Homo sapiens: one gene and its partner. The protein of the gene in region 1 purifies or fractionates together with the protein of each later gene. This does not show direct contact. Each region holds a gene or a part of one and is shown in the gene's direction. Other genes may lie near its edges.

Region 1 (9,206 bases):
ACTCTGGTCCAAACAGCATTTGGTTATTAAAAGACCATTCATTCAGAGACAAGAGTGAGCAAAGTTTAAGAGCCCTCTAGGCTCTTCAAATACTACTCCCTGAAGAAATCATACTTATTCCAGAATTAAATCAAATTGTCAAAAAGTACAAAATTTGGTCCAAAGGGAGAAACTAAATTATTCCCAACATCTACAGCAACGTCTACAGTAGATCATCTATAACTAATCTCCCATCGCACACTAGACTCACCTGAGGACCTGCCATGCCCCATATCAATTAAATCAGAATGTCTAGGGAAGAGCTGGGCATCAGTATTTGTTTAAAGATTCCCAGGGGATTCCACTGTACAGCAAAGTTTGGGAACCACTGACCTAATCAATTCCTATTTGTTAAGCACCTATGGTGTACCTGGGCATAAAGGGCCCTGTCCTCACAGAGGTCATGTGACCTGGCAATGGTGAAAAGAACTACAGAGTCTTAAAGCTGGAAGATCATCTGCCAAGCCAGCCTCTTGTTACAGACGAGGATGTGACATGCTCACAGTCACACAGTGAACTGTGCAGAGCCCTGATGGAAGCTAGAGCCCTCTACTCCCAGGCCAGTGCTCTGCCTGCCCTGCCATTCTCCCTCCTTTCTTTTTCTGCCCTCAAAGGACTCCAAAAATATCGACAATTCAGCCTGGCCACAGAAAAGCCATCTGTCAGCACTGCCAAACAAATTCTCCCCAATTCCAGCACCAAGTTACTCTCAGGCTCAGGGATGTCTGGGCTTCAGGCCATTCTCCAGATGTGCCACATACTACCTTTCTACAATGCTATGCGGTCTTCGAGAGCAGGGGGCATGCCTACTGCTCCTTTCCAAAGGCTCACAACCCCCCAGGGTAGCAGTGAATGGGCAGGGGCCGCCAAAGAGGACGTGTCAGCAGTGGCTTGACAAAGAGACAGCAAGGGTGACAAAGACCTCAGACCTGAGCTAGGGGTCAAGCTCAGAGCCTCTAGCCTGCACTTGACCAACAACAGGCTGGGTGACTTTTAGTCAAATCATACATCAAAATGGCCTACTGTATTTTCAATATTCCTAGAATATTTGTATGGATTTCAGAAGGTCTAGAGGAAATCCCCGAGAGCCCTGAAACTCCCAGCGGCATTCTAGGGAGGAGGTGCATTCTGGTCCCCTCAAAGCAGAAGCCGTATGTTCCTCAGAAGCATCCATGCCCAGCCCATGTTGGGGGCCCTGGCTTTGCATGAGGGATGCTCACATGCCTGCTGGGTGGTAGAGTGAGGAGCTGTTTGTTCCAGCTCATGCCTCCCATGTTCTCTCACATGCTGGAGGGTACAGTCATCCTCCCGTTCCACTCCATTACTCCCCCGAGGAATGGCTCAAATCTGGCCCTGAGTCTGGTTTTTGCATTATTGTCCATGCTCCAGTGACCTGTATTCTGTTAACTTTGCAGCTGTTACAAGCCATCCCTGTTGGGGTCGGCCAGGTGTATGGCTGTGACAATCCCTGGACAGGCGGCGTGTTCCTGGTGGCTCTGTTCATCTCCTCGCCACTCATCTGCTTGCATGCAGCCATTGGCTCAATCGTGGGGCTGCTAGCAGGTAGGACAGAGCTCCCTCTCTTCAGGTCCTCAGGATAATTCACTCAAGGTCACTTTTCCCCTACATACAGCAAATCTTCCAGACATTCTCTTCCCTGCAGTTTTAAATACTTTCAGGGAGACAGGCACGGTGACTTATGCCTGTAATCCCAGCACTTTGGGAGGCCGAGGCACATAGATGACCTGAACTCAGGGTGAAAACCCATCTCTACTAAAGAAAAAAAAGTACAAAAATTAGCTGGGTGTGGTGGTGGGCACCCATAATCCCAGCTACTTGGGGAGCTGAGGCAGGAGAATCACTTGAACCCAGGAGGTGGAGGTTGCAATGAGCCAAGATCGTACCACCTCACTCCAGCCTGGGAAATAGAGTGAGACTCCGTCTTAAAAAAAAAAAAAATACATGTGGAGAGATGCAAGGGGGTAAGAACCAAGTTGGCCTGCAAACTGAGCCCCTGGAGCTGAGGATGCTGGAGAGACACAGGGGTAGGGGCGGGAGCAGTAACCAAGACCAACTGTGATAAAATAAATGGCCCAGCACTCTGAAATTTTTGGTAAGATACAAAGAAAATTGTTCTCAAACATTGGATTGCCACTTAACAAATGTGCTTTAATATTGCTACCTGTGTATATGTATGTATACACATTTAAATAGGTATTTGCTCTTTCTGACAACAGAGTCAGAGATTGGGGTAGGAGCATTGGGAGTAGGAACCTGTTTTAGACTTCTTCTAATATTTTTCAAAGATTTTTTTGGAAGCAAAACTTTAAAAAGTATTTTTTATTTGGAAATAGTTTTAAACTCATCAAAAAATGGTAAAAATAAAAATATGAGGCATCTGTAAATTCTTTCCCCAGATGTACCCACTGTTCACATCTTACTCCTTCTGCTGTATCATTCCTCTATCTACATATATCCATAAGTGTATAGGGATATTTTTCCAGAGCACTTGAAACAACTTTTAAAAATATTTGTTTAACTCTTCAAACCTTTTTGGAAACTTTCTTGCTAAGACTGCAGTTGCTGTAGTCAAAGCAGTAAGAAGGGGCCTAGAATCCCACCTCCTTGCCTCTTCTCACCCAGGAGGACCTCCAAGTGAAGCCTGTGGCTTTGACAACTGGTTTGGAAACCACTGTTCTCTTTTCATTGAAGGTCTCCTAAGACCGGATGCCATTTGTAGAGGCTCTTTTGATGGGCAGGTTTGGAGATGTGGGGTGAACAACAGCATGGAGGCCACTCTGAGACCTGGCACCAGTCCCAGGGTGGTCTTTGTTCTGTGGCCCAGAATCAGACAGAAATACCACACCTTGTCCCATAGCCCTGTCAGTGGCCACACCCTTCGAGACCATCTACACAGGCCTCTGGAGCTACAACTGCGTCCTCTCCTGCATCGCCATCGGAGGCATGTTCTATGCCCTCACCTGGCAGACTCACCTGCTGGCCCTCATCTGTGGTAGGTGTTCAGAAAAGCTGACAACCAGGTTATTCTGGCTATTCCTTCCCCCCTTGTTTATGTGAAACCCATGGGGACCACTAATCAATACTGTTCAGCAGTGACAGAAAGGCCAATGGCTTGCGTCCTAATGCCAGTGCTGCCCTTAACAGCTGGGGATTTCAGGTCCCTTTTCTGTCAAATGGGATCACAACCACCGAATGGTATTATACTTACACAGTGTTGTAAAGTTTATAAGGAAATCACATATGCATTTCCTTGTGTGCTAATGACAGCATTCCTGCTCTCTATAACTCTTCATTCAACAACTGTTTATACAACACCATCAAGTGCCAGGACCTAGTCTAGGTATAGAAGATACCATGGTGACTACATCCTCATGAAGCCACAGCCTAGCAGGAGAGAAGTAATTGCACAAATAATTACTAAGGCTGCAGCGTCCACAAAGGTTGTTGGAATGATCCAGTGAGGTGATGTACCAGGAGCACTAAAAATCATAACCACATTATGGAAGCTCGATTTCCATAAACAGAGAATATGCTGCCAGAAGGGAAATCAGCCATAGTCCTTCTCATACACCTGTATCCCAGCACCATACCCTGTTATATAAATATACAAACTCACTTAATCCCCCCAAGAATACCACCAGGCATAGCCTGCCTGGCCCATTTTACAGATGAGGAAATGAGGCTCAGAGGGGCTAATTAACTTGCCCTAGAAGATAGCTATTAATGGCAAAAGGGAGAGTCAATCCCAGCCCCAGCTTGCCACCAGCTCTCCTCTCCTGGTATTGTTCTCTGGAAGCAGGACAGGACATTAATAAATAAAACTAGAGTCAAGGAAACAGAAGACTAGCGTCTGGAACAGCTTCTCTTTTGTTTTTTCCCACTTATGCTTGGAGACTGAGAATGACTTCCATATCCCTTGTATCCCCTCAGCAGCCAACATGAGGCTGGGCATGGAGACAGTGGACCTAGTAAATATTTGTCAAGTTAAAAGTGCCTGTTATTTTGAGGTTCAGACCGTAACTGCTTTTGGCCTTCAGAGAAGTGGCAGATTCCTGTGGCTGGAATCATCTGGGAAGCCTACAGGGGGAGGCTAGGGTTTATCTCAACACTTCTAGTAGGATCTGAGTTGACAAAGAGAGAGGGAAGAGGTGTTCCGGACAGAGAAGGAGAAAGAGCAAAGCTGCAGGCAGAAGGAGTTTGTCCAGAGGCACCAGCTACATGGACGAGCTTTCCTGACTGTCCTCAGGACCCAGCTCCCATGGGGGAACCCAGCTGCCTGGCTCCTGGGGACTGGTTCAGGGGTCTAGTAAGGTTCAGCCCTGGTGAGACTTGGTGAACATCAAGCAGCATCACAGCTGCTCACAGTCTTGAATAGGAGGGACCTTGGCAGGAGCTCGTATAGTCTGACCACTCTTCCCCTACAACAATCATCCAGCCTGTACTAGCTCTTCGCTACCATCAGCGTAGACTAGCATATGATGTGTATTGACCCCTGACTCCATGCAAGGCCACTATGGAAGCAGGGAGGGGACAAAAGGAAATATATGTTTTAATCTCTGCCCGAAGAATGAACAGTCTGGTGGGAGACTGGCCTCACCTGTCTACAGAGATAACAAATGCCAGGCAAGCATGCCAGCTGTCAGGGCATGGTGCAGAATCTGAGGCTGCAGGAGAGAGGGTGGGGCTCCTGTTCTTGGTCTGGGCTCCCTGGTCTGCAATGGCAGTGGCTTAGGGGGAAGGCCCTGGGAAGCTCACTCTGGTGATCCTTGTTCCTCCACAGCCCTGTTCTGTGCATACATGGAAGCAGCCATCTCCAACATCATGTCAGTGGTAAGTGTGGATTCTCCTGAACACTACCCCAAAGTGCTCTTCCCAGAGCTTCTGGACATATGGGGTTGTGGGGTCTGGGAAAGGAACATTGAGCGGGTAATGGTAGCTGGTGCTCACACGACATCTCTGTTAAGGTTTATCTAAGGTTGTCCGGAGGAGGATTGACAATTGCATACATGTACCTCTAGGAGAGGGAGGGGTGTGTGTGTGTGTTGAAAGATTGCAATGTAACTAGCAGTGGAAAACACGACGGACAGATGGAGCTGTGTGACTGGACATGGGGGAACATCCTCAGGCCAATTTTCAGCTCCATCATTGAAAGATTCTGATTGTGGCTCAAATTATCTGTTTTGTTTTTGTTTTCTTTGCAAGACAGGGTCTCGCACTGTTGCCCAGGCTGGAATGCAGTAGTGCAATCTTGGCTCACTGCAGCTCCAACCTCCCAGGACTCAAGCCATCCTCCCAGTTCAGCCTCCCAAGTAGCTGGGACTAGAGGCATGCACCATCATGCCCAGCTGTCTTTTGTATTTTTTTGGGTCTCACTTTGTTGCCAAGGCTGGTCTGGGCTCAAGTGATCCTCCCACCTTGGCCTCCCAAAGTGCTGGTATTACAGGCATGAGCCACTGCATCCAGCCCTAAATTCTTTGACCAACTACTGTGACATTGCAAATCCAGGAATATCAATGCCTTCACTGGAGGGAGGATCTCCATCCTCAACGCCTGTCACATCCTTCTCCCCCAGAGTCCCCAGCCCAACACAGGAAACTAGGAAACTTCTTCAGTCCCCAATGCTTTTGTTTCCAGGTGGGCGTGCCACCAGGCACCTGGGCCTTCTGCCTTGCCACCATCATCTTCCTGCTCCTGACGACAAACAACCCAGCCATCTTCAGACTCCCACTCAGCAAAGTCACCTACCCCGAGGCCAACCGCATCTACTACCTGACAGTGAAAAGCGGTGAAGAAGAGAAGGCCCCCAGCGGTGAATAGCCATGTTCGGGGAAGAAACGCTCTTTGCCTGACCTGATGTCCTCTCCCTGTGTTCTCTGCTCTGGTTCAATCAGTTGCAGCACTCACCTTCTTTGCCTCTCCTTGCACCTGTGTAGAACCAAGCACACCTGTAACTTTCTTTCCCTGAAGCTGATTTTCATTCTCTGCCAGAATCTCCATAACTATCTATTGTGCGACATTAAGGGATGTTGGTATTACAGTAAAATTTCCGGAGTTAGCAATAAGGTGTGTGTCTTAAATGTTGTTGACTTAAAACAAAAACAGTAGTCTTTTGGAAAGGTAATTAACAGGTGATCTTCTTGGCATCTTAAACTAAATAATAGATGCTATAAAATTAAACTTGTTGAGTGGTTCCTAGGCAGACACAGAGTAGGGGGGTAAGTCAGGGGACACAGGCTAGGAAGGGAAGGCTCTCTAGTGGCTGAGCTAGAGACTAATGACCACAAAGAGAGGAATTTCACACTGATGGGATTTTAAAGTCAAAACAGGGACGATTGGGGCAGGGAATTATCTAAATAAGGAGTCTTAACCATTCAGTGGTCTTTGTAAGGGGCAAGGCGATATTCCATAGCAGGGAGGAATTAATAAATTAGAATCCTATATATGACTTTATTATGGAGGATAAGCATTTCTTAGTTTAGGTCAAACCAGCATCTCTTTAAAATTTAATTTTTTTAATTTTAAGTTCTGGGATACATGTGCAGAACATGCAGGTTTGTTATATAGGTATATATGTGCCATGGTGGTTTGCTGCACCTATCAACCCGTCATCTAGGTTTTAAGCCCCACGTGCATTAGGTAGTTATCCTAGTGCTCTCCCTCCTCTTGCCTCCCATCCCCCAACAGGGCCCAGTGTGTGATGTTCCCCTCCCTGTGTCCACGTGTTCTCACTGTTCAACTCCCACTTATAAGTGAGAACATGTGGTGTTTGATTTTCTGTTCCTGTGTTAGTTTGCTGAGAATGATGGCTTCCAGCTTCATCCATGTCCCTGCAAAGGATATGAACTCATTCTTTTTATGGCTGCATAGTATTCCATGGTGTATATGTGCCACATTTTCTTCATCCAGTCTATCAAGACTTTGCTATTGTATACAGTGCTGTGATAAACATATGTGTGCTTGTGTCTTTACAATAGAATGATTTATAATCCTTTCAGTATATACCTAGTAATGGGATTGCTGGGACAAATCAAACCAGCATCTCTAAGCAGAGATTTCAGTTAAGGAAAGTACCTGAGTTCCATGTGTAAAAAGCTTGGGAAATTTACTTCATTCTTCTATTTGCTTGTGAGCATGGGAGGCTTTATGAAGTGTATGATATTTAAAACAAATAGGTAGCCCTGACTATAGAAAGACAATTATCTATGAATTTCATAATTTTGTTTCTCAACTATAGTCAATAGCTTTCATTTGGTCTTTTTAAATATATATATACATATACAAAGATATATATAGATCGGGGTCAGCAAACTTTTTCTGTAAAGAGCCAGATAGTAAATATTTTCTGCTGGGAGGCCATATATTCTCTTTGGCAAAGTCTTAACCCTGTCATTATAGCATAAAAGTAGCCATAGACAACGTGTAAATGAATGAGTATGGCTATGTGTCAATAAAACTTTATTAAACAAGCAGTGAGCTAGATTTGGTCCACAAGCTGTATTTTGCAGATCCCTGATAGAGACAGTCTACATACTAATGCTTACAAACTGGTGGGCGGTGCACAGGCCCAAACAGACACCACCAAGTCCCTTGCGACATAGCAAAGGGGTTTTACATGCTGGTGACAGCATGAAGACCCTCAGGAAATGGAGGATACCCAGAAAAGTGACAGTAGCATGACTGGAATCAGGAGGACCTGCTCTGGGGCTGCTGGAGAACTAGGATACCCAGTGATGTGCACTAAGGGGTGCAGTTTTAAACCAAGACCCGCCTTCTACATTGTCTGGGAACTATTTCTAAGGTTCACTCTTCTCCAACCTCTCACTCTGTTGTTCTCTCATCTGCCAGAAAGCACACCACTCTTGGACAAAGAAAAACTGATGACCCTTCAGTGCTGGAGTTTTCCAGGCAGGAAGGACAGGGAGGTTCAGAGAATCCCAACGTTTGAAGGGAGTGTGAAGATCAGGTGGTCCGATCCCATGATGCATGAAAACCTCTATAATATTAGGATAAGGGCTTCAGTTCTCTGCCGGGTTTCCAGAACAGATTCAATTACCCAAAATGGAGGCAAGGCTCCCAAAGTATTTTAACAACAGATAACCAGAACCAGAGACCCCACTCATTGCCCTAGAAAATCCCCTCCTGTCTTCATTAAGCTCTTTGAGGCTGTCCACCCAAAGCATTGGGTCTGATTGGGGACTGTCTTTTAGCCATGCTTACTGGATCCCCAGGAGAGGAAAACTATTTGGATATAAAAAATTATTTCAGCTGATTTGGACAAGATTATCGCTTTCTTTTCCCACCAACTCCCCCCATCTCCCCCACCCCTGCCAACTCTTCACCTCATCTCACGAGACTGGAGAGCTCCTGGAGTGATCTTGTCCCACCTTCCCCAGGGCTTCCCCACCTCATCTACCTGCTGAATGGGTAGGTAAAAGATCTCTAAACTTACAGATTCACAGCACCAACATGAGGTTGCATGGGGGCAGGCCATGATGAGAGAAGAAGAAGGGTTTGGGGACCCATATTCTGGCAGTTTTTCTACCATCACCCCAAACTACAAGCAACAGCTCTTGGCTGTACAAATGAGAGTGTCTATGTTGAACATAAATATGCAATCATTAAAGATGTGTCAGTTTGGAGAGAAAGGGACTTTAGAGGAGGCTGTGTCTCAAACTCTTTTCCTATCTCACCCATCTTCCACTCTCCCTCTCCCAGTCTCTGCCCTCCCCAACACTTTCTCCCATCTTTATCTCCTCTCATACAACACTGATGAATTCTATCAGCCATGACAGTCTTGTCCTGCTGCACTTTAAAATGGCAGATCTTAAATCATCTTTCCAGTTTCTTCCATAATTGACATAGTCAAGTTTTCTGCTTCATCTTGAGTCAAGCTTGAGCATTTGCTAAGATATAATCAATTTTCTTTAGCTTTAAATGTTTGTGGCCATAGAGTTACTTATAATGTTCTCATAAAACAATTTCAGTCTCTCCTGTATGCATGGTTTTATCCCCTTCTCATTTCTACTCTTACATAATTTTGTTATCTCTTTTCTTTAATCAGGTTTGCAAGGAGTTCGTTAATTTTATTGACTTTTTCAAAGAAGCGATTTTGGATTTATTTGTCCTTTCTACTTGTTTTGGTTTGT
Region 2 (9,206 bases), on another chromosome or scaffold:
CTGTATGGCTAAATTCTACCAAAAGAAGAGATTACTTGTATTACACAAATAGCTAAAGGAGATAGAAAAAGATTAAATACTACCCAACTAACTTAATGATGTTAGTATAACCTTGATTCTAAAAGTGAAAAGGGTAGTACAAGAAAAGGAAAAGGGAAATCCATTTTATTTATAAACACAGATGGAAAAAATGTTAATAACCTAATTAAATCCAACATTGCATTGCATTTGTTTGTTTGTTTGTTTGTTTGTTTAGACACTGTCACTCTGTCACCCAGGCTGAGCGCAGTGGCATGATCTTGGCTCTCTGCAACCTCTGTCTCCCAGGTTCAAGCGATTCTCCTGCCCCAGCCTCTTGAGTAGCTGGGACTACAGGCACGTGCCACCACGCCTGGCTAATATTTTTGTATTTTTTAGTAAAGACAGGGTTTCACCATGTTGGCCAGGCTGGTCTTGAACTCCTGGCCTCAGGTGATCAGCCAGCTTTGGCCTCCCAAAGTGCTGGGATTACAGGTGTGAGCCACCACACCCGGCCCCAAGATTGCATTTAAAAGTACTGAATAAACAGGTTTTTATCTAGTAATTGACTTGAAAACTTAATAAGAGTTTAAAGAAAATACCTTTAGACTAGTTCCATCACAGTTCTAATTTTTAAAACATCTTCGGCTGGGCATGGTGGTTCACGCCTGTAATCCCAACACTTTAGGAGGCTGAGGCAGGTGGATCACCTGAGTCAGGAGTTCGAGACCAGCCTGGCCAACATGGTGAAACACCATCTCTACTAAAATTCCAAAAAATTAGCTGGGCGTGGTGGCACACACCTGTAATCCCAGCTAGTCTGGAGGCTGAGGCAGGAGAATCACTTGAACCTGGGAGGTGGAGGTTGTGGTGAGCTGAGATCACACCACTGCACTCCAGCCTGAATGACAGAGAGAGACTTTGTCTCAAAATAAATAAATAAGATAAAAATAAAACATCTTCATCAACCTCTGGTAATCTACAGAAAACTTAATGTTATCGTGAAATCAAATACAATAGCACTTATAGGATATGTCTCACAAAACAGATGCCGACATCAGTGGCTCAGACAGTTGTCCAGAAGGAAAGTGGCCTGCAGCACACCCGAAAGATGCTGCATGTTGGTGACCCAAGTGTGAAAAAGACAGCCATCTCGCTGCTGAGGAATCTGTCCCGGAATCTTTCTCTGCAGAATGAAATTGGTGAGTCGGTATAAGTATCTATGTGTAATATGTACATGCTGAAGATACAATGCAATGAAATGTTGTCTGTATCACCTCCCGTTCACAAAGATGCACTGGAAATGGGAGTAAGGAGTAGGTGATAAACCGGCCTGCCTTTTGTGCCACCAGATATCACAAACAGGCTTTCTCAGTGGATCTCACCAGAGATTTTTTTTAAATATCCAACATTTAAAAAAAAAATTACTACAAAAGAGAAATTTTAGAGCATACTAATAATTAACAAGATAAGTAATATTGTTGATATTTTTCACTGGGTGGCACCCTCAGTCACACCATCCAATGAAGTCTTTCTAATCCATATAGTTGTCTTTCAGAATGTTCTCTCTGTGGCTCTCTTAAGCACCACAATTCTAGAACATTTGAAAAACACATATAGTGGTGGTTTACTTTAGTAGTTTGGCAGTGTGTTGGACTATTAAAAAAATGGATAAACAGATAATCACAATAAAAAGACAAGGAGTCACTGAATATAGCAAATTTGGCATGGATTTTTTTTGAGTAACTGTGATGAGACATATTTTGCCTTTGACTGTATTATTGACAGAGATGATAACGGTACTTTTTTATTTGTTTGCTTATACCAAGAAGTATGTGATAAATGTTTGTTGTATCTAGTAGAAAATTACAAAATGAGATGATAGAAAGATAATGCTAAAATTAAACATGCTTCATAATGCTCTGTAATCGGTCGTTTCTAACAACTCAAATTCGGTTTTTCACATTTCACAAAAATTATAAACAATATTTTGCCTGTTTTAATGGATTAGATTTTTAAATATGCACATATATAGCCCCAGAGATATTAAAGGCTGCAGTTATGTTTTAGTAATGTCATTTTCAAAGCCAGCCAGCAGCACATTTGACAGGAGGTTTTATGCAATGGCTTCATGCTCATTCTAAGTAGAGATAAGCCTGGAACATTCTCAGTGAATCTGAAAGAGACCTCGCCATAGGCACTCTCAGAATTATTAAAATGCTCTCCCCATGGTCTTTTGTGCTGAACTTCAATGGCAGTGTATTATCCTTTCCCTTTTTTGTTCTTTTCCCAAATGAAAAATTGACTCCATCTTTAAAACACCACCAAGGTAAATAACAGCACTATACACATTAAGCATGTACCTTCAGGGCAGAAATGCTGTTGGCCTCAGGTTCTGCAGTCCCCTAAATGTCGGGAAGGTATAGCTGTAGCCACATGGTTTATATTAGAGGATTCTGTTGATAAACTTCACTTTAAGGATAACAGAGAAAAGAGGCTTCAGCAAGATAAATGCTATTTTAAAATTCCAGATTGGCTTCATGTCAAATATATAAGTAAAAGGACTTCTCTTAATTCAGAATTTTAATAGCAAGAAATAAGTGAAAGTCAGCTTGAACACATGCTTTGTGTTTCTCATGAGAGCTTTCTAAGCCAGGTAACTTTCCCTGTTCTCACCTGCAATAAAGTTGTTATGTTTTACTTACATCTAGAGAAATAAACTTGAAACTTACATTTTCTCAAAAACTTAAAGACAGGCAATGGAGCATGGTAACAGAATAACAGATTTCACACAGAAAACATGGGTTTGTATCTCACAGTGCTATTTTGCCAGTCAAGGCCTTTCATTCTGTAGTTTAACTTACTAAAAGGAGGGAGACTTCTGATAATAGCATCCACTGAGAGCTTACCACATGCGCAGTACTGCAATACAATTAACATGCATTGACTCGTTCCCTCAGAACAACCCTGTGACGTAGACATTATTATCCCACATTGCAACTTAGGGAAAAACAAATAGAGACATTAAGTAGCTTGCTCAGGCCATAGAGCTGTAAAGTAGCAGAACCAGGACTGAAACTACAGCACTCTGGCTTTAGATGAACGCTGAGCTCTCCACAGTATGCTGTGTGCTTGAACCACAGTCAAAAGGAAAGTGTTCAGGCCTGTGAGCAAAAGGTATGTCTTACCTGTCAATCAGGTCCAGGTATTATGATGACATATCATTCAGTGCCTTTTATTGAGTACTTGTCCATTTCAGGAATAATGATCAACGCTGTAAACACAGAAATAAGTAAGATAATTGGCTTCAAGGAACCCACAGCCTCATCTGAAGTTGAGACAGTCACACAATTCATTACTATCAGTATCATAGAGAGAGAAATGTGCTTCAAGATGCCACATGAACACAGATGAAGGCACACAATAAAATTAGGCAGTATTTGTTAATTGCTGATAAACACAACACGTATTCAGAAGCTGTGGGGATCAGCAAAAGCAAAAGATGCATGCTCTCTATCTTTTAAGAAGAGTCTAAAGTGGTTAGAGGAAAAAGAGGAAAACATACATGAAAATAACTATTACAAAAAGTTTAAGCACAAGTTCACATTGACCAAAATATGTACCATAGGACAAGTTCCAGTGGATTTATCAAATATTAACACCTTTTAAGAATTTTCAATAGATTTTTGGGTACAGGTGGTGTTCAGTTACATGCAAAAGTTATTTAGTGATTATTTCTGAAATGTTGGTGCACATGTCACCTGAGCAGTGTACACTGTACCCAATGTGTAGTCTTTTATCCCTCACCCCTTCCTACCTTTCCCCCAAGTCCCCAAAATCCATTATATAACTCTTGTTCCTTTGCATCCTCATAGCTTAGCTCTCACTTATAAGTGAGAACATCCAATATTTGGTTTTCCATTCCTGAGTTATTTCACTTAGAATAGTGGTCTCTAATTCCATCCAATTTGCCGCAAAGGCCATTATGTCTTTCTTTTTAATGGCTGAGTAGTATTCCATGGTGTGTATATACCACATTTCCTGTATCCACTCGTTGGTTGATGGGCATTTAGGTTGGCTCCATATTTTGCAATTGTGAATTGTGCTGCTATAAACATGCATGTACAAGTGTCTTTTTCATATAATGACTTCTTTTCCTTTGGGTAGATACCCAGTAGTGGTATTGCTGGATCAAATGGTAGTTCTACTTTTAGTTCTTTAAGGAATCTCTATACTGTTTTCCATAGTGGTTGTACTAGTTTACATTCCCACCAGCAGTGTAGAAGTGTTCCCTTTTCACCATATCCATGCCAACATCTATTAAATTTTGATTTTTAAATTATGGTCATTCTTGCAGGAGTAAGGTGGTATCTCATTGTGCTTTTAATTTGCATTTCCATGATAATTAGTGATGTTGAGCATTTTTTCATATGTATGAGGCGTATCAAAAAATTTTTCTTATGCCATTTGTATATCTTCTTTTGAGAATTGTCTATTCATGTCCTTAGCCCACTTTTTGATGGAATTATTTGGCTTTTTTCTTGCTTTTTTGAGATCCTTGTAGATTCTGGATATTAGTCCTTTGTCGAATGCAGTTTGTGAATATTTTCTCCCACTCTGTGGGGTGTCTGTTTACTCTGCTGATTATTTATTTTGCTGTGCAGAAGCTTTTTAGTTTAATTGGATCCCATTTACTTATTTTTGGTTTTGTTGCATTTGCTTTTGGGTTCTTGGTCATGAACTCTTTGCCTAAGCCAATGTCTAGAAGAGTTTTTCCAGTGTTATCTTCTAGAATTTTTATGGTTTCAGGTCTCAGATTTAATCTTTGATCCATCTTGAGTTGATTTTTGTATAAAGTGAGAGATGAGGATCCAGCTTTATTCTTTTACATGTGGCTTGCCAATTATCCCAGCATCATTTGTTGAATATGTTGAATAGGGTGGCCTTTCCCCACTTAATGTTTTTGTTTGCTTTGTCAAAGATCAGTTGGCTGTAAGTATTTTGCTTTATTTCTGGGTTTTCTATTCTATTCCATTGGTCTATGTATCTTTTTTATTTTCTATAGCCTAATTGTGAAAGTGGCATGTCTATTTTTTTAATACCTTTCTTGTTAGTACAAAAAAAAAAAGCCAAACTCAAAACTTATAACCAAGAAGTTATATACATAGTAGAAAAGTACATTTAAAATAGTTTATTTCTCTTTTTAAAATAGTAGGCCAGGCGCAGTGGCTCACGCCTGTAATCCCAGCAGTTTGGGAGGCTGAGGCGGGCAGATCACCTGAGGTCAGGAGTTCGAGACCAGCCTCAACATGGAGAAACCCCATCTCTACTGAAAAAAAAAATATACAAAAAATTAGCCGGGCATGGTGGTGCGTACCTGTAATCCTAGCTACTCGGGAGGCTGAGGCAGGAGAATTGCTTGAACCTGGGAGGCGGAGGTTGCAGTGAGATGAGATCGTGCCATTGCACTCCAGCCTGGGCAACAAGAGCGAAACTCCATCTCCAAAAAAAAAAAAAAAACAAGAGTAGTATTACTTATGTATTGGAAAAACCTTGGGAAGCAAAGATTATTCGTTTATTATTTATTTACTATTTAATTTTACTTTTTAAAATAGAGACGGGGTCTCATTATATTTTCCAGACTGGTCTCAAACTCCTGGGCTCAAGTGATCCTCCTGTCTCGGCCTTCTAAAGTGCTGGGATTACAGACATGAGCTACCTTGCCTGGCCTTAAAAATGATTTTAGCTTGGCCAGGCGCGGTAGCTCACGCTTCTAATCCCAGCACTTTGGGAGGCCCAGGCGGGCGGATCACAAGATCAGGAGATCAAGATCATCCTGGCTAACAAGGTGAAACCCCGTCTCTACTAAAAATACAAAAAAATTAGCCCGGCGTGGTGGCGGGCACCTGTAATCCCAGCTACTCGGGAGGCTGAGGCAGGAGAATGGCATGAACCCGGGAGGCGGAGCTTGCAGAGAGCCGAGATCGCGCCACTGCACTCCAGCCTGGGTGACAGAGCAAGACTCTGTTTCAAAAAAAAAAAAAGATTTTAGTTCACTATTAATATTGTTGTAGAAAAACAGCTCCTATTAACATTTTTCCTCAGGTTTCTTACGTGGGTTTTTTGGTAATAGTATGTATTCTTTTTTTTTTTTTTTTTGAGACAGGGTCTCTCTCTGTTGCCCAGGCTGGAGAATAGTGGCGTGATCTCTGCCCACTGCCACTTCTGCCTCCCAAGCTCAAGCAATTCTTGTGCCTCAGCCTCCTGAGTAGCAGGGACTACAGGCACAGGCATGTGCCACTACGCCCAGCTAATTTTTGTATTTTTAATAGAGACAGGGTTTCACCATGTTGGCCAGGCTGGTCCTGAACTCCTGACCTTAAGTGATCCACCCACCTCAGCCTCCCAAAGTGCTGGGATTACAGGTGTGAGCCACCGAACCTGGCCAATAATATTATGTATTATTTATATAAATATACTGATTTTTCACATACACTATTAACATAATTATTTTCTTTTTATTATACATGCTTCATAGATAGGTTTTGTGATGAATAATAGTCTTTGCAGGTGTGTTTTAGTTAATCATAGTCCTATTATAAGGATATTCAGGCTTTTTAGTTTTTCAGTTACATGTAGTACTGTCATAAAGATCTCTGTAGAAAGCTTTTTTCATTTTCAAAGTGATATTTTTAAGATGTATTCCTAGACATGGAATTACCGAATTGAAGAAGATGAAAATGTTTTAAGTTCTTGACATTTCTGCCAAATTACACTCTGAAAAGATTTTCAATATACTGAGCACAGAGTATCCTCTTTTCAAATATTTTTAAAAATTTGTTATTAGGGAAATTACATCTTTCCATGTGTTGTTAACCAGCTGTGTTTCTTTTTAAGAAAGTTCTTGGCCGGGCGCAGTGTCTCACGCCTGTAATCCCAGCACTTTGGGAGGCCGAGGCTGGCGGATCACGAGGTCAGGAGATCGAGACCATCCTGGCTAACACGGTGAAACTCCGTCTCTACTGAAAATAAAAAAAAATAAAAAAATAAAAAAATTAGCCAGGCGTGGTGGCGGGTGCCTGTAGTCCCAACTACTCGGGAGGCTGAGGCAAGAGAATGGCGTGAACCCGGGAGGCAGAGCTTGCAGTGAGCCAAGATGGTGCCACTGCACTCCAGCCTGGGCAACAGAGCAAGATTCCGTCTCAAAAAAAGAAAAAGAATGTTCTTCACCCAAAATATATTGGGATCTTGGGATTAAGAAACAATCTTTTTAATCAAGTGTTTTGTTTTTTTTTTCATTTTGTAGCCAAAGAAACTCTCCCTGATTTGGTTTCCATCATTCCTGACACAGTCCCGAGTACTGACCTTCTCATTGAAACTACAGCCTCTGCCTGTTACACATTGAACAACATAATCCAAAACAGTTACCAGAATGCACGCGACCTTCTAAACACCGGGGGCATCCAGAAAATTATGGCCATTAGTGCAGGCGATGCGTAAGTCCTTCAGTTCTGCCCGTCAGCTGCCTCCCTTTCCCCTCACCAGCCTGTGTGTAAATAATCCGGTTGTGAATGTGCGGTCATGACCATCATGTGCAACATGGCAGCAAACAGGATGTAAAGCCAGGCCAGATCATCTGGTCAGCCCTCAGTGATCAGCCAAGGAAAGAACTGAATCCACCACACCACATGCTTGTCCCTTCTCTTCTAAAGTATCAACAGAGGGTCAGACTCCAGAACTTCTCTTGGTTGTGCATTCCAGCATTGTATTGGCCTAATGAATTAGTTTCCCAAAGCCACAGCTGTGATTTAATAACAGCAGAATGTAGGCAAAGCAGGAGTCCTCTGAATAGGCAAGTGCCCTTTTCCTCACTTCCATCTTAGGAGGGGATGTCACACCAGGTGGTTTAGAAGAAGCAGTGATGGGCTGGGCACAGTGGCTCATGCCTGTAATCCCAGCACTTTGGGAGGCCCAAGCAGATGGATCACTTGAGGTCAGAAGTTCGAGACCAGCCTGGCCGACATGGCAAAACCCTGTCTCTAGTAAAAATACAAAAATTAGCTGGGTGTGGTGGTGCGTGTCTGTAATTCTAGCTACTTGGAAGACTGAGGTTTGAGAATCACTTGAGCCCAGGAGGCAGAGGTTGCAATGAGCCGTGATCGTGCCACTGCACTCCAGCCTGGTTGACAGAGTGAGATTCTGTCTCAAAAAAGAAAAAAAAAAAAAAGCAGCAGCAGCAGTGATGACACAGGAGAAGCAGTCAGGGGGTAGCCTGATGAGAAAGTCTTGCTTTCACAGTTTTTTCTCTGTCTTATCTCTTCCGCATCTTATTCCCTTTTGATAATAGAAGGTCCAATGCATGTCATTCCACATCTGTGTTCCTGTTTTCAACTTTTCCCTATTAAAAAAAAAAAGGAGGAGAATGAAAAACCTTGTATAACCAAATTATTTACTATTAGTTAATTTAGAGTGATGAGATTGGAAAGGGGCATGAAGATTATCTTTTTCTCTTTATACAATTCTGAATTGTTTGACTTATTACAAATAGATATGTTACTTTTGTAAATAACCAAACAAGAAAAGAAATGGCTATGATAGCCTAGTTTTAATGAGTTACAAAGCAGATGACTTCACCTGTACTGAAGAAATGTGTGCTTGGCTGTACAGGGATGTACATGTTACCTCTACTACAGCCCCACCCAATTTAGGCCCCTTCTGCTCTGCAGCCCCACTCTGCAGTGCACACAAGGAAGGAAGACTGCATTTAGAGTCAGATTAAAACAAGCCCTGAGCACTGGCTGGAGTGTCAGTTCCCCAAGAATATTCACCCATCCCCAGAGGCTGGCAGATAGTATTAGAGTTGCTCAGTCTTTGTGGAAAGAGTGAATTACTGTTGCAAAACAGAAATGACTTTTCTTCCAAATAGTCATCCAAACTTCCAAGCAAATCACCGTAAGATAGTATGATGCTCATTATTCGAGTATTCAGACATAACAATTGTTGCACATGGCAATATGCAATTACTTTTGGAAACTTCTGGTAGCTTAGCAAGATAAGGGGTGAGCTACTCTGTTACTTGTTTATTTCCGAGTGTCCACTTGTGAGTCCTCACATGCCCTGTCTCAAAAACAAAAGTTAACAAGGAGCTTCTTGCCAGTGGTGTCTGCTGCTCTTTCCTTACTAGAGTG

What was found.
Region 2: the proteins of SLC14A2 (region 1) and PKP2 purify together in Homo sapiens (affinity purification with mass spectrometry; 2 studies listed by BioGRID and IntAct, with this or other methods). This does not show direct contact.

What each region holds. Positions count from the first base shown.
Region 1 is NC_000018.10:45,638,292-45,647,497, forward strand, and holds part of SLC14A2 (urea transporter 2), read left to right. Parts: intron 1-1,454; coding exon 1,455-1,602; intron 1,603-2,917; coding exon 2,918-3,052; intron 3,053-4,840; coding exon 4,841-4,890; intron 4,891-5,694; coding exon 5,695-5,869; intron 5,870-9,206.
Region 2 is NC_000012.12:32,794,417-32,803,622, reverse strand, and holds part of PKP2 (plakophilin-2), read left to right. Parts: intron 1-1,066; coding exon 1,067-1,220; intron 1,221-7,324; coding exon 7,325-7,514; intron 7,515-9,206. UniProt on the Homo sapiens protein: A component of desmosome cell-cell junctions which are required for positive regulation of cellular adhesion.